Linked DNA regions of Homo sapiens. The protein of the gene in region 1 interacts with the protein of each later gene in a pairwise test. Each region holds a gene or a part of one and is shown in the gene's direction. Other genes may lie near its edges. The genes, in order: TNNT1 and TPM3.

Region 1 (7,274 bases):
CCCAGGCCCGGTCCTTTAAGCCCCTGAGAGCTCCTGCGCCCTCTCGGGGCCGGGAAGGGAAATGGCCCCGCAGTGGCTTTAACCCTTTCCCTTCCTTCTTAAAGGGACCGACACCCAAGCCTTCTTCCCCAGTCTGGAGGAATCTTTACAGAAGGGTTGGATGTTTGCGGAGAAGCACCACCCCATCCCCCCTTATCTTCGCCTCCAACCTTGTCTGTTATTTTCTCCCCCATATACATTCAAAGGTTGGGGCTTGGAATTTAGGATTGCAGAGGAGGCGAGCGCTGGGAGTCAGGGTCTCCAAGGTCGGGCCGGGGGCGGGGGGGCGGTGGGGCGGTGGGCAGGGGGCGAGCTGGGGAGAGAGCGCTGGGGTCACTGAATGAAGACAGAGGTTGGGACCCCCTGCACTGCTGGGTCCTAATGGAGGAGAGCAGGAGCTCTGGGCATATAAATAGAGAAAGGTCTGGGGGTTTGCACTCCTGGGTGTGCAGACAGTGGGGGTGGGGGGTCCCCACACCAGTTCTGAATGTATATCTGATGCGTGTGACCCTCTTCCTCCTTTACAGCCACCCTGACTTTCCTTCCCTCTTTTCTTCTCCCCATCCCCCCTCCTCCAGAACTGGACTCCAGAGTCCTTCCCTGGGGTCCTGGGGGCCGAGGCTTGGGGGGTCCCTCCCCAGGGTGTGTCAGGCCTAGCCCCTCTCCTCTAAACTCTTGCTAATTATCTCTTTTTATCCCCCACCACCAACAGAAGAGGAACGCCCCAAACCAAGGTGAGATCCTACAGGGTGGGGGGCCCCAGTCATACATCTTCCTAAATATTCCCTCTACCCCCAGAGACAAGGTGTGAGAAAGGCAGAGATGGAGGGAGGAAATTGAAACAGCAGTCGACATTTCTCCTCCTCCTCCTCCTCCCTCCCCCTTTCCCTCCTCCCTCCTCTCCCTCCTCCTCCCTCCTCCTCCTCCACTTCCTCTTCTTCCCCTTCCCCTTCTCCTTCTCCTTCCCCTTCTTCTTCATCGTGGTCATAGTCTCCACCCTGTTACCCAGGCTAGAGTGCAGTGACCCAATCCTGGCCCACTGCCTCAACATCTTGGGCTCAAGCAATCCTCCCATCTCAGCCTCCTGAGTAGCTGGGACCACAGGCATGTGCCACCACACCTGGTTTTTTTTTTTTTTTTTCTTTTTGTAGAGATGAGGTCTTGCTATGTTGCTTAGGCTGGTCTTGAACTCCTATCCTCAAGCAGTTCTCCCACCTTGGCCTCCCAAAGTGCTGGGATTACAGGCGCAAGCCACCATGCCCAGCCAGTCTGTTTCCTTCTTTCCACCCAGTGGTCCCTCTTCCCCTCGCGCCTTTACCATCACCCCAGCCTCCTCTCTGGCCTCCCTGCCTACAACTTGTGGCTCATCCTCCTCCATGACTCGAGAGAGACTTTTCTAACACCAGAGCTAACCCTGCCCCTCCTCTGCTCAGAATCTTTCCTCAACTCCCCACTACTCTTAAGACGCAGTCAAAGCAACTAGCCTGCATTCAAAGCCTTCCCCATCTGGCTCCAGCGGACCTTTCCGGCATCTGCCTTCCCCACTGACAGACACACAGCGTTTCATGGTTCTCTAGCCATGCCTGTGCTTTCATACCCCTGAGCCTTTGCACACACTGTGCCCTCTGCCTGCGCAGCGGCAGGTGGGAGGATCACTTGAGGATAGGAGTTCAAGATCAGCCTAAGTAACAAAATGAGATCCCCCACATCTCTACAAAAAATTTTAAAAAATTAGCCGGGCACAGTGGCACACACCTGTGATTCCAGCTACTCAGGAGGCTGAGGAAGGAGGATTGTTCGAACCCAGGATTTGGAGGCTGCAGTGAGCTATGATTACACCACTGTACTCCAGCCTGGGCAACAGAGCAAGACCCTGTCTCTAAAACATAAATAAAAATAAGGGAATGGGGCCGGGCGCAGTGGTTCATGCCTGTAATTCCAGCACTTTGGGAGGCTGAGGGGGGCGGATTACCTAAGGTCAGGAGTTTGAGACCAGCCCGGTCAACATGGTGAAACTCTGTCTCTACTAAAAATACAAAAGAATTAGCCAGGTATTGTGGTGGGCACCTGTAATCCTAGCTATTTGGGAGGCTGAGGCAGGAGAATCGCTTGAACCGGGAGGCAGAGGTTGCAGTGAGTCAAGATCGTGTCATTGCACGGCAGCCTGGGCAACAAGAGTGAAACTCCATCTCAAAAAAAAAAAAAGGGGGTGGGGTGGGGTGGGGGAATGGACTGAGAGGGATTCCAAGGCAAAGGGACAGGACTTGGGGATTGTTGGGCAAGGGGAGGGAAGCAATGGGGACAACCCCGAAGGGTCTCTGGGCTGGGGAACAAAGTGGACAGTGGGGCTGCCATCTCCTTCTCAGAGAAGTTGGTGAGCTCCATCAGGACGTCATGTGTGGGAAGGTGGGAAAAGTTCAGGAGATACCTGTTAGCTTGAGTCTGGGGCTTAGGAGAGAGTCTGGACCAGAGACAGTTGGCGAGTCCTCAGCAGTTGATGATACCTGAAGTCATTGGAGTGAATGGCATTGATGATGAGAAAAGGGAAAAGGAAAGCTCACTGGCAGCTCACGGGGCTGTCGGGGCAGGAGATAGGGATGGAACAGCCAGAGGGGTGGGAGGCAAGCCGGTATTCATTCCTGTACAATATGGTAAGCCATATTTTATTCCCACACATGACGCCCTGATGGAGCTTATCGACTTTTCCAAGATGGAGATGACGGCCCTGCTGTACACTTGGCCCCCTGGCCCAGAGACCCTTGGGGATTGTCCTCACCTCTTCCCTCCCCTTGCCCAGCATCCCCTAAGTCCTGTCTGCTTCATCTTGGAATCGCTCTTCACTGTCTCAGAAACCCAGAAAAGAGAATTCCAAGGAAGTGGCAGGAAATCAGAGCAGGCTGAGGGCTGAGCCTCAGAGCGGCACCACCCAATAGAAATAGATGGCAAGCCACACACGTCACTTACAATTTCTTACTAAAGGCTGGGCGCAGTGGCTCACGCCTATAGTCCCAGCACTCTGGGAGGCTGAGGCGGGAGGATCACTTGAGCTCAGAAGTTCAAGACCACCCTGGACAACATAGTGAAACGCCATCTCTTTTTTTTTTTTTTTGAGATAGAGTCTCCCTCTGTCACCCAGGCTGGAGTGCGATGGCACGATCTCGGCTCACTGCAATCTCTGCCTCCGGGGTTCAAGCGATTCTCCTGCCTCAGCCTCCTGAGTAGCAGGGATTACAGGCACGTACCACCATGCCCAGCTAATTTTTTTTTTTAATTTCTAGTAGAGATGGGGTTTCACCATGATGCCCAAGCTGGTTTTGAACTCCTGACCTCAAGTGATTCGCCCACCTTGGCCTCCCAAAGTGCTAGGATTACAGGCGTGAGCCACCGCGCCCAGGCTGTGAAACGCCATCTCTACAAAAAATTTAAAAATGGCTGGGCGCAGGGGCTCCTGCCTGTAATCCCAGCACTTTGGGAGGCTGAGGCAGGCAGATCGCCTGAGGTCGGGAGTTCAAGACCAGCTTGGCCGGCATGGTGAAACCCCGTCTCTACTAAAAATACAAAAATTACCCAGGCGTGGTGGCAGGCGCCTGTAATCCCAACTACTCGGGAAGCTGAGGCAGGAGAATCGCTTGAATCTGGGAGGTGGAGGTTGTTGTGGTGAGCAGAGATGGCGCCACTGCATTCCAGCCTGGGTGACAGAGTGAGGCTCTGTCTCAAAAAAAAAAAAAAAATTCTTACTAGGCATATTTTTTAAAGTACAACAATATAGGAAAAATTAATTTTCATAGCACAGTTTTTTTAATCTGTTATATAATGTTTTATCATTTCAACATGTAATCAGTATAAAACATGATTAGTGCCGGGCGCGGTGGCTCACACCTGTGATCCCAGCACTTTGGGAGGCCGAGGCGGGCGGATCACGAGGTCAGGAGATCGAGACCATCCTGGCTAACACAGTGAAGCCCCGTCTCTACTAAAAATACAGAAAAATTAGCCAGGCTTGGTGGTGGGCGCCTGTAGTCCCAGCTACTCGGGAGGCTGAGGCAGGAGAATGGCGTGAACCCAGGAGGCGGAGCTTGCAGTGAGCCGAGGTGGCGCCACCGCACTCCAGCCTGGGTGACAGAGCAAGACTCCGTCAAAAAAACAAAACAAAACCAACAACAACCAAAAAAACATGAGTAGTGAGGTATTTTACCTTCTTTTGTGTGTTTCACTGACAGCCCGCCTCAGCTGGGACCCTCCACGTTCAGGAGCCTCCCGGGGCTGGCGGCTACCTCACTGGACGGCACATCCCGGAGGTGGGAGGTGGCTCAGGGAGGTCGGGCCACTCATGGTCTCTGTGTTTCTGTCCACTCAGCCGCCCCGTGGTGCCTCCTTTGATCCCGCCAAAGATCCCAGAAGGGGAGCGCGTTGACTTCGATGTAAGTGACAAGAGACCCCTCCGCAGGCGCAGTTGCTAGTCTTTAAGGGGCCTTTGTGTCAATCATGAAAAGGCGCCGGCCGGGCGCGGGGCCTCATGCCTGTAATCCCAGCACTTTGGGAGGCTGAGGTGACCCACCTGAGGTCAGGAGTTCGAGACCAGCCTGGTTAATATGGTGAAACCCCGTCTCTACTAAAAATACAAAAATTAGCCGGGCGTGGTGGCAGGTGTCTGTAATCCCAGCTACTCGGGAGGCTGAGGCAGGAAAATCGCTTGAACCTGGGAGGCGGAGGTGGCGGTGAGCCGAGATCGCGCCATTTCACTCCAGCCTGGGAGGAAAAAAAAAAAAAAAGGCGCCGGTCCCCACTCCCCACTCCCGTCTTTGGGAAGCCTGTCCTTGGAAGAGCTGATTAGTGTCAAACACGAGGCATTGCTGCCACCTGCTGGATACCGTCCTGGGAAACGGTTCAGTTCACCATCCTGCATGGGGGAGGTGCTGGGAGGCTGCTGCCCCCTCCAGGGTCTCCTAGGACGGGCTGCCCGTGTGTCCTGCAGGACATCCACCGCAAGCGCATGGAGAAAGACCTGCTGGAGCTGCAGACACTCATCGATGTACATTTCGAGCAGCGGAAGAAGGAGGAAGAGGAGCTGGTTGCCTTGAAGGAGCGCATTGTGAGCCGAGAGTCCGGGTTCCCCCCGGTCTTCCTCCCTCCATGTGGATCCCTTGCATCTTGGGAGATGCAGATAATAGTTTTCCTCCTAGTACAGAGCTGAGCCTTAGGCTTTCGCGAATTCACCCAAGTCGGTGGCCACACTCCAATCTGTTTATTAGCCTACTCTGGGGAAGGAAGACTGGGGGTACGTCCCTGCACCCCCTTATGCTTCTCCGTTTCCCAGGAGCGGCGCCGGTCAGAGAGAGCCGAGCAACAGCGCTTCAGAACTGAGAAGGAACGCGAACGTCAGGCTAAGCTGGCGGTGGGTGCCTCCCCTGCCCTGAGAGCCCAAATGTTACTTCTTCAGCCGGATGCCCATTTTGTTATTATTATTATTATTATTATTATTACTATTATTATTATTCTTTGAAACGGAGTCTAGCTCTGTCGCCCAGGCTGGAGTGCAGTGGCACGATCTCAGCTCACTGTAACCTCTGCCTTCCAGGTTCAAGCGAATCTTCTGCCTCAGCCTCCCCAGTAGCTGGGACTACAGGTGCGCACCACCACGCCCGGCTAAATTTTGTATTTTTAGTAGAGATGGGGTGTCACCATGTTGGCCAGGATGGTCTTGATCTTCTGACCACATGATCCGCCCACCTCAGCCTTCCAAAGTGCTGGGATTACAGGTGTGAGCCACCGCATCCGGCCTATTATTATTTTTTATTCGTTTATTTGGAAATAGGGTCTTGCTCTGTCACCCAGGCTGAAGTGCAGTGGTGTGATCCTAGCTCACTATAACTAGGACCTCCTGGGCTCAAATGATTTTCCCACCTCAGCCTCCAGAGTCGCTGGAACTATATAGGCTGCGCCACTCTGCCCCACTAGTTTTTTTTATTTTTTTATTTTTTGTAGAGACAGCATTTTGCCATGTTGTCCAGGCTGGTCTTCAACTCCTAAGCTCAAGCAATCCACCTGCTTTCACCTCCCAAAGTGCTGGGATGACAGGCATGAGCCATCGTGCCCGGCCTGGATTCTCCATTTTCTTCTTTTCCCTTTTTTTTTAATTTTAATTTTTTTTTTTTCTGAGACAGTCTCGCTCTGTCACCCAGGCTGGAGTGCAGTGACGCGATCTCAGCTCACTGCAACCTCCGCCTCCTGGTTCAAGCAATTCCCCTGCCTCAGCCTCCTGAGTAGCTGGGATTACAGGCACCTGCCACCAGGCTCGGCTAATTTTTGTATTTTTAGTAGAAATGGGGTTTCTCCATGTTGGTTCAGGCTGGTCTTGAACTCCTGACCTCAGGTGATTCACCCCCTTGGCCTCCCAAAGTGCTAGGATTACAGGCATGAGCCACCATGCCTGGCCATTGTCATCATTATTACTATTATTATTATTTTTTTTTATTTGAGATAGGGTCTTTCTATGTTGCCCACGTTGTTCCCAAACTCCTGGGCTCAAGTGATCCTCCTGCCTCAGCCTCCCGAGTAGCTGGGATTACAGCCACCTGCCCGTCACCCAGCTGTGAAGGGGATTTTGCAGATGTGATTAAATTAAAGATCTTGAGATGGGAAGGTTGTCCTGGATTACCTGTGGGGAAGGGCAAGATCATCACAAGGGTCCTTATAAGAGGAAGGCCAGAGGGTCAGACTGAGAGATTTGAAGATGCTGCATGGCTGCCTCTGAAGATGAAAGAAGGTCCATGGGCCCAGACATGCAGGCAGCAGCTGGAAAAGGGAAGGGAATGAATTCTCCCCTAGAACCTCCAGAATAAATTGGTTCTGTTCACAACTTGATTCCAGCCCAGGGGGACCAATTTCAGATGTCTGATCTGCAGAGCTGTAAGATAACAAATCTGCATTGTTTTTCTGCCACTAAATTTGCAAATTACAGCAGTGATAGGAAACTAAGTTTAGGCGCGATGGCTGACGCCTGTAATCCCAGCACTTTGGGAGACCGAGACAAGTGGATCACCTGAGGCCAGGAGTTTGAGACCAGCCTGGCCAACATGGTGAAACCCTGTTTGTACTAAAAATACAAAAATTAGCTGGTAATGGTGGCACATGTCTGTAATCCCAGTTACTTGGGAGGCCGAGGCAGGAGAATCACTTGAACCCAGGAGGTGGGGGTTGCAGTGAACAGAGCAGAGATTGCACCACTGCACTCC
Region 2 (7,062 bases), on another chromosome or scaffold:
TCTTTGTATCTTTCCCACTAACCCTGAAAAGAAGCCACATTTCTCAGGCTGAAGTGTCTGGCTCTCTTTTATTATTCCTGCTGCCACCTCTTCCTTTTTTTCCTCTTCCTTTTTCCCAGTTTGCTATCTAGATTGATGCTAGTCCTTCTCACCTAGAGTATCCTTACTTTTTCATACAGATAATTATCACCGTTTCTGCTCTGTTCTGGATCTGCCCCCTTTACTCCTCGGGGAACCCAAGGCCCCACTCTCGCTCTGGATTCCATTTGGGTCAGCCTGGCTGGTCCCCAAGGCATTAGGATGGGGGAGCAAAAAGCAACTTATGTATTTTCTTCCACCCCCACCCCAAATTAAAATGTTAAGCTGCTGGAAACCTCATGCCACCCTGCATTTGTGTCATTGACAAAGCTGTTGCTGTCCCTAAGAAGGAGCCTTGGGGGTGTGATGTGGGGAAGAGCTATTGTAGGCTCCCCCTCCTCTGACTTATGTAATCAAAGCCACTTTTGTGTGTGTCTATTTTTTCTTGACATTTAAACTCAGCTGATCTGATTCTACCAGAGTGATGGATTTAGTACAGGTTACTCAGGATAGTAATTTTAGTTATACTCCTCAAGCTGAACAAGATTAAATTCCTTATTTCCAGGTTCTTAAATCATCCTGCCTGCAGTGTTTCCATTCTCTCTTCAGGTATTCCTCCTTTGGTGTGGTGTCATTGAGAAGCCATTGAAGTGACTCTCAATACACATTCTGTACCCTTTTACCGGTGGTTCAAATGGTGCATCCTCAGAACACCCAGTGAACCCAATACATTATTGCTAAGATTGACTAATTATGTCAACTCCAGTCACAGAAAAATACACAATGGATAGAATTCTGGACGGTTTTTTTACTTTTTCTTCTTTAAACCTTTCTTACATATTTGAGACTTGCTACCATTTGCCTGCTAGTGTGTGACTAGTGGGATATAAGATAAGTGATAAATTATTATTGGGAAAACTAAAATGACCAATCATGCATATTTCAAATAATGTGCATATGAGGCTAATGATTTATTACATACATAAATTTCTGCTAGTAAAATTTTCCTTGGTTCATATTGTGGAATTAAATATCAACATTTTAGAAATTCCCATTATAGGCCGGGCGTGGTAGCTCACGCCTATAATCCCAGCACTTTGGGAGGCTGGGGCAGGTGGATCACCTGAGGTCATGAGTTCGAGACCAGCTCGGCCAACATGGTGAAACCCCGTCTCTACTAAAAATACAAAAATTAGCTGGGCATGGTGGGTGGGTGCCTGTAATCCCAGCTACTCGGGAGGCTGAGGCAGGAGAATCGCTTGCACCTGGGAGGCGGAGGTTGCAGTGAGCGGAGATCGCGCCACTGCATTCCAGCCTGGGCAACAGAGAGACTCCATCTCAAAAAAAAAAAAGGAATTCGCATTCCAATTTACACAGCAGAGATTTCTTAATAGTATAGCTGTGAATTATACTAATCCAAGCACGTAAGTGTTGTTCACTTAGTACTTTAGTTTCCCAGCAGGGTATGTATTTAAAATTTGCTTTTCTTTTAGCTGGGTGCAATGGCACTTGCCTGTACTGCCTGTAGCTTCTTGGGAGGCTGAGGCAGGAGGATTGCTTGAGCCCAGGAGTTCTGCACTGTAGTGTGCTATGCAGGTCAGATGTCCTCACTAAATTTGGCATCAGTATGGTGACCTCCTGGGAGTGGAGAACAACAAGGTTGCCTAAGAAGGGGTGAACTGGCCCAGGTCGGAAATGGAGCAGGTCAAAATTCCTGTGCTGATCAGTAGTGGGATTGCACCTATAAATAGCCACTGTAGTACTCCAGCCTGGGCAACACAGCAAGATTCCATCTGTTAAAAACACTTTTGCTCTTCTTTTAAACAGATATAATCAGGTAGGGAAGTTTTCCTTAATCTAAAACTTTAAGTCATATCAAATTCACGTTTCCTTTTGTCCATTCCATTTCTTACTGCCGCATAGCCTTTGAGATTAAGGTTCAGATTCATTTATTCAGCTGACACTTCCTGGTATCTTCTAGGTATAGGATATTAAGATGGAGACAGAAATAAAGATGGAGGCACCATTCCTACTCTCAAGTTGCTTAGAATCTACTAGGAGAGAAAACATACATAAAGCTACAGATACTGTGTGATGAATGCCACAAATAATAGTGTTATGGGAATTGAGTAGAGGGGACGAGATTGATCCTAGTGGGAATGAATTGGAAAAACTCATGGAAGAAGGCATGTAATGGGTACTTCATAAACATGTTAAAACTTTTTTCTTTTTTTCTTTTTTTTTTTTTTTTTGAGACGGAGTTTGACTCTTGTCACCTAGGCTGGAGTTCAGTGGCCTGATCTCAGCTCACTGCAACCTCTGCCTCCTGGGTTCAAGCAGTTCTCCCACCTCAGCCTCCCGAGTAGCTGAGATCACAGGCGCCTGCCACCACACCCAGCTAATTTTTGTATTATTAGTAGAGGTGAGGTTTCACCATGTTGGCCAGGCTGGTCTGGAACTCCTGACCTCAAGTGATCCACCCACCTCAGCCTCCCAAAGTGATGGGATTACAGGCTTGAGCCACTGCGCCCAGCCAACATGTTAAACTTGCATATTCATTTTTATTGGGTTCCAAAAGTGGATTTTTGACAAGCAGAGTTGGGTTGTGGGATAGTGAATATTGAGCATTCCATTATTTATTTATTTTTCTCTTTTTGAGATGGAGTCTCGCTCTGTCACCCAGGCTGGATGGAGTGCAGTGGTGAGATCATGGCTCACTGCAACCTCTGCTTCTTGAGTTCAAGCGATTCTCCTGTCTCAGCTTCCCGAGGAGCTGTGATTACAGATACCCACCACCATGCCCAGCTGATTTTTGTATTTTTAGTACGGACGGGGTTTCAGCATGTTGGCCAGGCTGGTCGCGAACTCCTGACCTCAAGTGATCCACCCGCCTCTGCCTCCCAAAGTGTTGGGATTACAGGCGTGAGCCACTGCACCTGGCCTGAGCATTCCATTTAAAGAGAAACAAAATAATAAAGGCATTGATAGAGATGAGAAGGCCACAATAGCTCTAAAGGTAGATTTAGACAGAGTAGGGAACAGGTTGTGTCTTAAAATGAGGCTGAGGAGTTATAATTTTACTTGGAGTTAATGGGGATGCCACTGGAGATTTTGAATAGGATATGTTGTGATCTGAATAACATATAAGAAGAATTAATTTGGTAACTAATTTGCAGATTAGCAAAGTGATTCACTAACATGGTGTTTCTCACATTTCAGCCATTTATGTTACCATTTTTGATGGCTTTTTCCATATTCATTGCTGCCTACATTGTTTTCTTCAGATCTACTCATTTCCAGATTTATTTTGTTCTTACTTGACACAATTCTATTTTGAAATCAAAGTTTTGATGTGTTAGTGTTTTTTCCTAATCACATTAAAGTAACTATAGCAGTGAATACACCACACTTTGGAAAAAATTGGGTTAGGTTAATTTAGTTTTCTAGGAGAGAATAATCAGGGTCTGAGCTAGAGTAGTGGCAGGAGAGATAGCACTAAATAAAGACAGGCATTGTGAAAGGCCTGGCCACTTGATGTGAGGAGGAAAGACAAGGATGACTGGTTTTTAGAGTAGGAGAATTAGCCGGGTGCAGTGGCTCATGCCTGTAATCCCTGCACTTTAGGAGGCTGAGGTGAGAGGATTTCTTGAATCCAGGAGTTCGAGACCAGCCTGGCAATAAAGTGAGAACCTGTCTCTACAAAATATAAAAACTTAGCCAAACATGGTGGTGCGTGCCTGCAGTCCTATCTACTTGGAGGGCCGAAGCCAGAGGATCCTTTGAGCCCAGGAGTCTGAGGCTGCAGCAAGCTGTGATCACACTGCTGCACTCCATCCTGGGTGGCAGAATGAGACCCCCCCCAAAAAAAGAGTAGGAAAGTGGTGGGGTTAAAGATGTAGGGAGATCATGTTGTCCTGGTTTGGGGAGCTGGGGGAAGGGAAAGAAGATACGGCTGACAATCTGGCAGGTATCTGGGTGAAAACAAAATTCTAGGGCGTGAGGCAGAGAGGTTGACATAAGAGAGTTGGGAATCCATATGGGGTACAGGTAGTTTATGCCATGGAGGTAAATTAGAACCATGAAGGACAATTGCAAATACAAAAAAAAGAGGCCAGGCACGGTGGCTCACGCCTGTAATCCCAGCACTTTGGGAGGCCGAGGTGGGCGGATCACGAGGTCAGGAGATCAAGACCATCCTGGCTGACACGTTGAAACCCCGTCTCTACTAAAAATACAAAAAATTAGCTGGGCGTGGTTGCGGGCACCTGTAGTCCCAACTACTTGGGAGGCTGAGGCAGGAGAATGGCGTGAACCCGGGAGGCGGAGCTTGTAGTGAGCTGAGATTGTGCCACGGCATTCCAGCCTGGGTGACAGAGCAAGACTCTGTCTCAAAAAAAAATTAAACAATGAGGAAAACGTTATGTAAGAGGAGGAACCAAATGGAACTGATTGGAGGGAAAGAAGACGGTTGAGTAGTTCTTTAAAAAGTTCCGGGTTGGATGCTTTCTAGTGGTTTTTCAACAGAGAGGCTAAGAAGGAAGATAACTGAAAATGGGACATGCATTGATACTTTAGTAATTTGAGGGTACATTTTGAGTGTTAAGAAGTGAAGAGGAGGAGTCATTTTCAGGGGCAAAAGAGTGTATTGGTAGGAAGATTATATAGGCAATATAATTTACTTTAGAGCAGGGCTTTCCAACAGAACTTTTGGTAATGATGTCTAGTACATTAGCCACATGTGGCAGTCAAGCACTCAAAACATGGCTAGTGTGGCTGAGGGGCTAAAATTTAATTGTATTTCATTGTAGTTCATTTAAATTTGGCTACCTGTGGCTAGTGGCTATTATATTGGACAATGCATTTCTAAATATTCAGATCCTGGGCAGAAGTTGGCTTTGACATGAAGAAAGACTTCTTAGAAAGGAAGGAAGTAGACCGGGCATGGTGGCTCATGCCTGTAATCCCAACACTTTGGGAAGCCGAGGCAGGTGGATCACAAGGTCAAGAGATCAAGACCATCCTGGCCAACGTGGTGAAAACCTGTCTCTACTAAAAATACAAAAATTAGCTGGACATGGTGGCACATGCCTGTAGTCCCAACTACTCGAGAGGCTGAGGCAGGAGAGAAAAAAAAGAAGGAAATAAGAGGGAGATTGGGAGAAAAGTAAGGTGTTATAGCTCTGATCTGTGGTATCTCCTGTTTTCCTTGCGGTATGACTAGTGTGAGCCAAGGATAGAGACCAACAAACTGGGGTACCAAAGTGGACAATGAAGTACTATGTAATTAGTGCTAATGCTAAATTCATTCCTTTGTTTAAGGCTTAATATCCTTGCAGAAGCCATCCTGTGTTACTTGAGCCTGGACTAGTATTGGGGTGAAGTCAAGCATCAGAGTAAAACATTTGTCCCCTTAATGTTACCCCCTCTTAATTTCTAAGAACCACAGGCCCATTTTGCCCTTCCTTGTTACCATCATTGAGATAAGGAATAAGATGTAGTAACCCCAAGTTATCTGATAGGTACAACTGACCTATTCTGTTTGGCAGCTTTATCTTAGACCTATTCTGTTTGGCAGCTTTATCTTAGCCCCAACCAAATCTCTTCCTTTCACATGGTGTTGGTTGAATACTATCCAACTCCATGGGGTTGGTTTGTGTTTTTTTTTTTTTTTTTTTTTGAGACGGAGTCTTGCTCTGTTGCCCAGGCTGGAGTGCGGTGGTGTGATCTTGGCTCACTGCAAGCTCCGCCTCCTGGGTTTAAGTGATCCTCCTGCCTCAGCCTCCTGAATAGCTGGGATTACAGGCACGTGCAACCAAGCCCGGCTAATTTTTGTGTTTTTAGTAGAGACTAGGTTTCAACATGTTAGGCTGATCTCAAACTCCTGACCTCGTGATCTGCCCGCCTCGGCCTTCCAAAGTGCTGGGGTTACAGACTTGAGCCACTGCACCTGGCCATGGGGTTGTTTCTTAATTAGATATAGCTGAAAAGAACGCTAGACCAAATAGGTTCTCTGCCTTGCCTTTTCGTTTGTTTTGTTTTAGCTATTATCAGGGAACCAAAAACTTTAAGGAGCTAGTACTGGTCTTAATTTTTAATAACTAGAGATAGCAGAGTTAGAAACTAAGTTCAAAGTGAGAGAACAGCTGCATTTGTCTTTCTGACCTCATGCAATTCCTAGGAAACTCTGTGTTCTGTGATTTAGTCAGGCAATAAAATGCTCTCACTCCTTCTCTGTCTCTTTATTTCTTCCCTAAATGGAAAAGAATTGACCAGGCTGCTTTGAGGGATAAAGATCCTGATAACGCGGCTGGGTGCGGTGGCTCATGCCTGTAATCCCAGCACTTTGGGAGGCGGGCAGATCACCTGAGGTCAGGAGTTCAAGACCAGCCTGGCCAATATGGTGAAACCCCATCTCTACTAAAAAAAAAAAATGCAAAAATTACCTGGGCGTGGTGGTGGGTGCCTGTAATCCCAGCTACTCAGGAGGCTGAGGCGAGAGAATCGCTTGAACCTGGGAGGTGGAGGTTGCAGTGAACCAAAATCGTACCATTGCACTCCAACCTGGGCAACAAGAGTGAAACTCAAAAAAAAAAAAAAAAAAAAAGGATCCTGATAACATCCTTCTTTCCCAAGTGAGAATCACACAAACTAACTTGGTTATAGGTATTATCTAAATTCAGGCTGTTCACGAGATCTATATGTAATGTAACATCACAGGAAATTTGAGAGATTAGTTCACAAATTTCAACACCTGTTATTTTGACAAGGACGCCCCAGTGAATAAGACAGGTCCAATCTCAGGCCTCATGAAGCTTATATACCATTAGTATAGTTTTGAGTATTCCTTATTCAAAATGCTTGGGAGCAGAAGTGTTTTGGATTTTTGCTTTTTTTTTTTTTTTTTTTTTTTAATATTTGCATTATACTTTCCAGTTGAGCATCCCAAATTCGAAAATCAGAAATTTATACCAGGCATGGTGATGC

The links.
Region 2: the proteins of TNNT1 (region 1) and TPM3 interact in binary tests that used the Homo sapiens proteins (3 or more experiments, as listed by UniProt).

The regions. Positions count from the first base shown.
Region 1 is NC_000019.10:55,139,043-55,146,316, reverse strand, and holds part of TNNT1 (troponin T, slow skeletal muscle), read left to right. Parts: intron 1-751; coding exon 752-773; intron 774-4,396; coding exon 4,397-4,460; intron 4,461-5,014; coding exon 5,015-5,131; intron 5,132-5,356; coding exon 5,357-5,434; intron 5,435-7,274. UniProt on the Homo sapiens protein: Troponin T is the tropomyosin-binding subunit of troponin, the thin filament regulatory complex which confers calcium-sensitivity to striated muscle actomyosin ATPase activity.
Region 2 is NC_000001.11:154,161,058-154,168,119, reverse strand, and holds the end of TPM3 (tropomyosin alpha-3 chain), read left to right. Parts: intron 1-179; coding exon 180-183; 3' UTR 184-6,307; downstream 6,308-7,062. UniProt on the Homo sapiens protein: Binds to actin filaments in muscle and non-muscle cells. Plays a central role, in association with the troponin complex, in the calcium dependent regulation of vertebrate striated muscle contraction.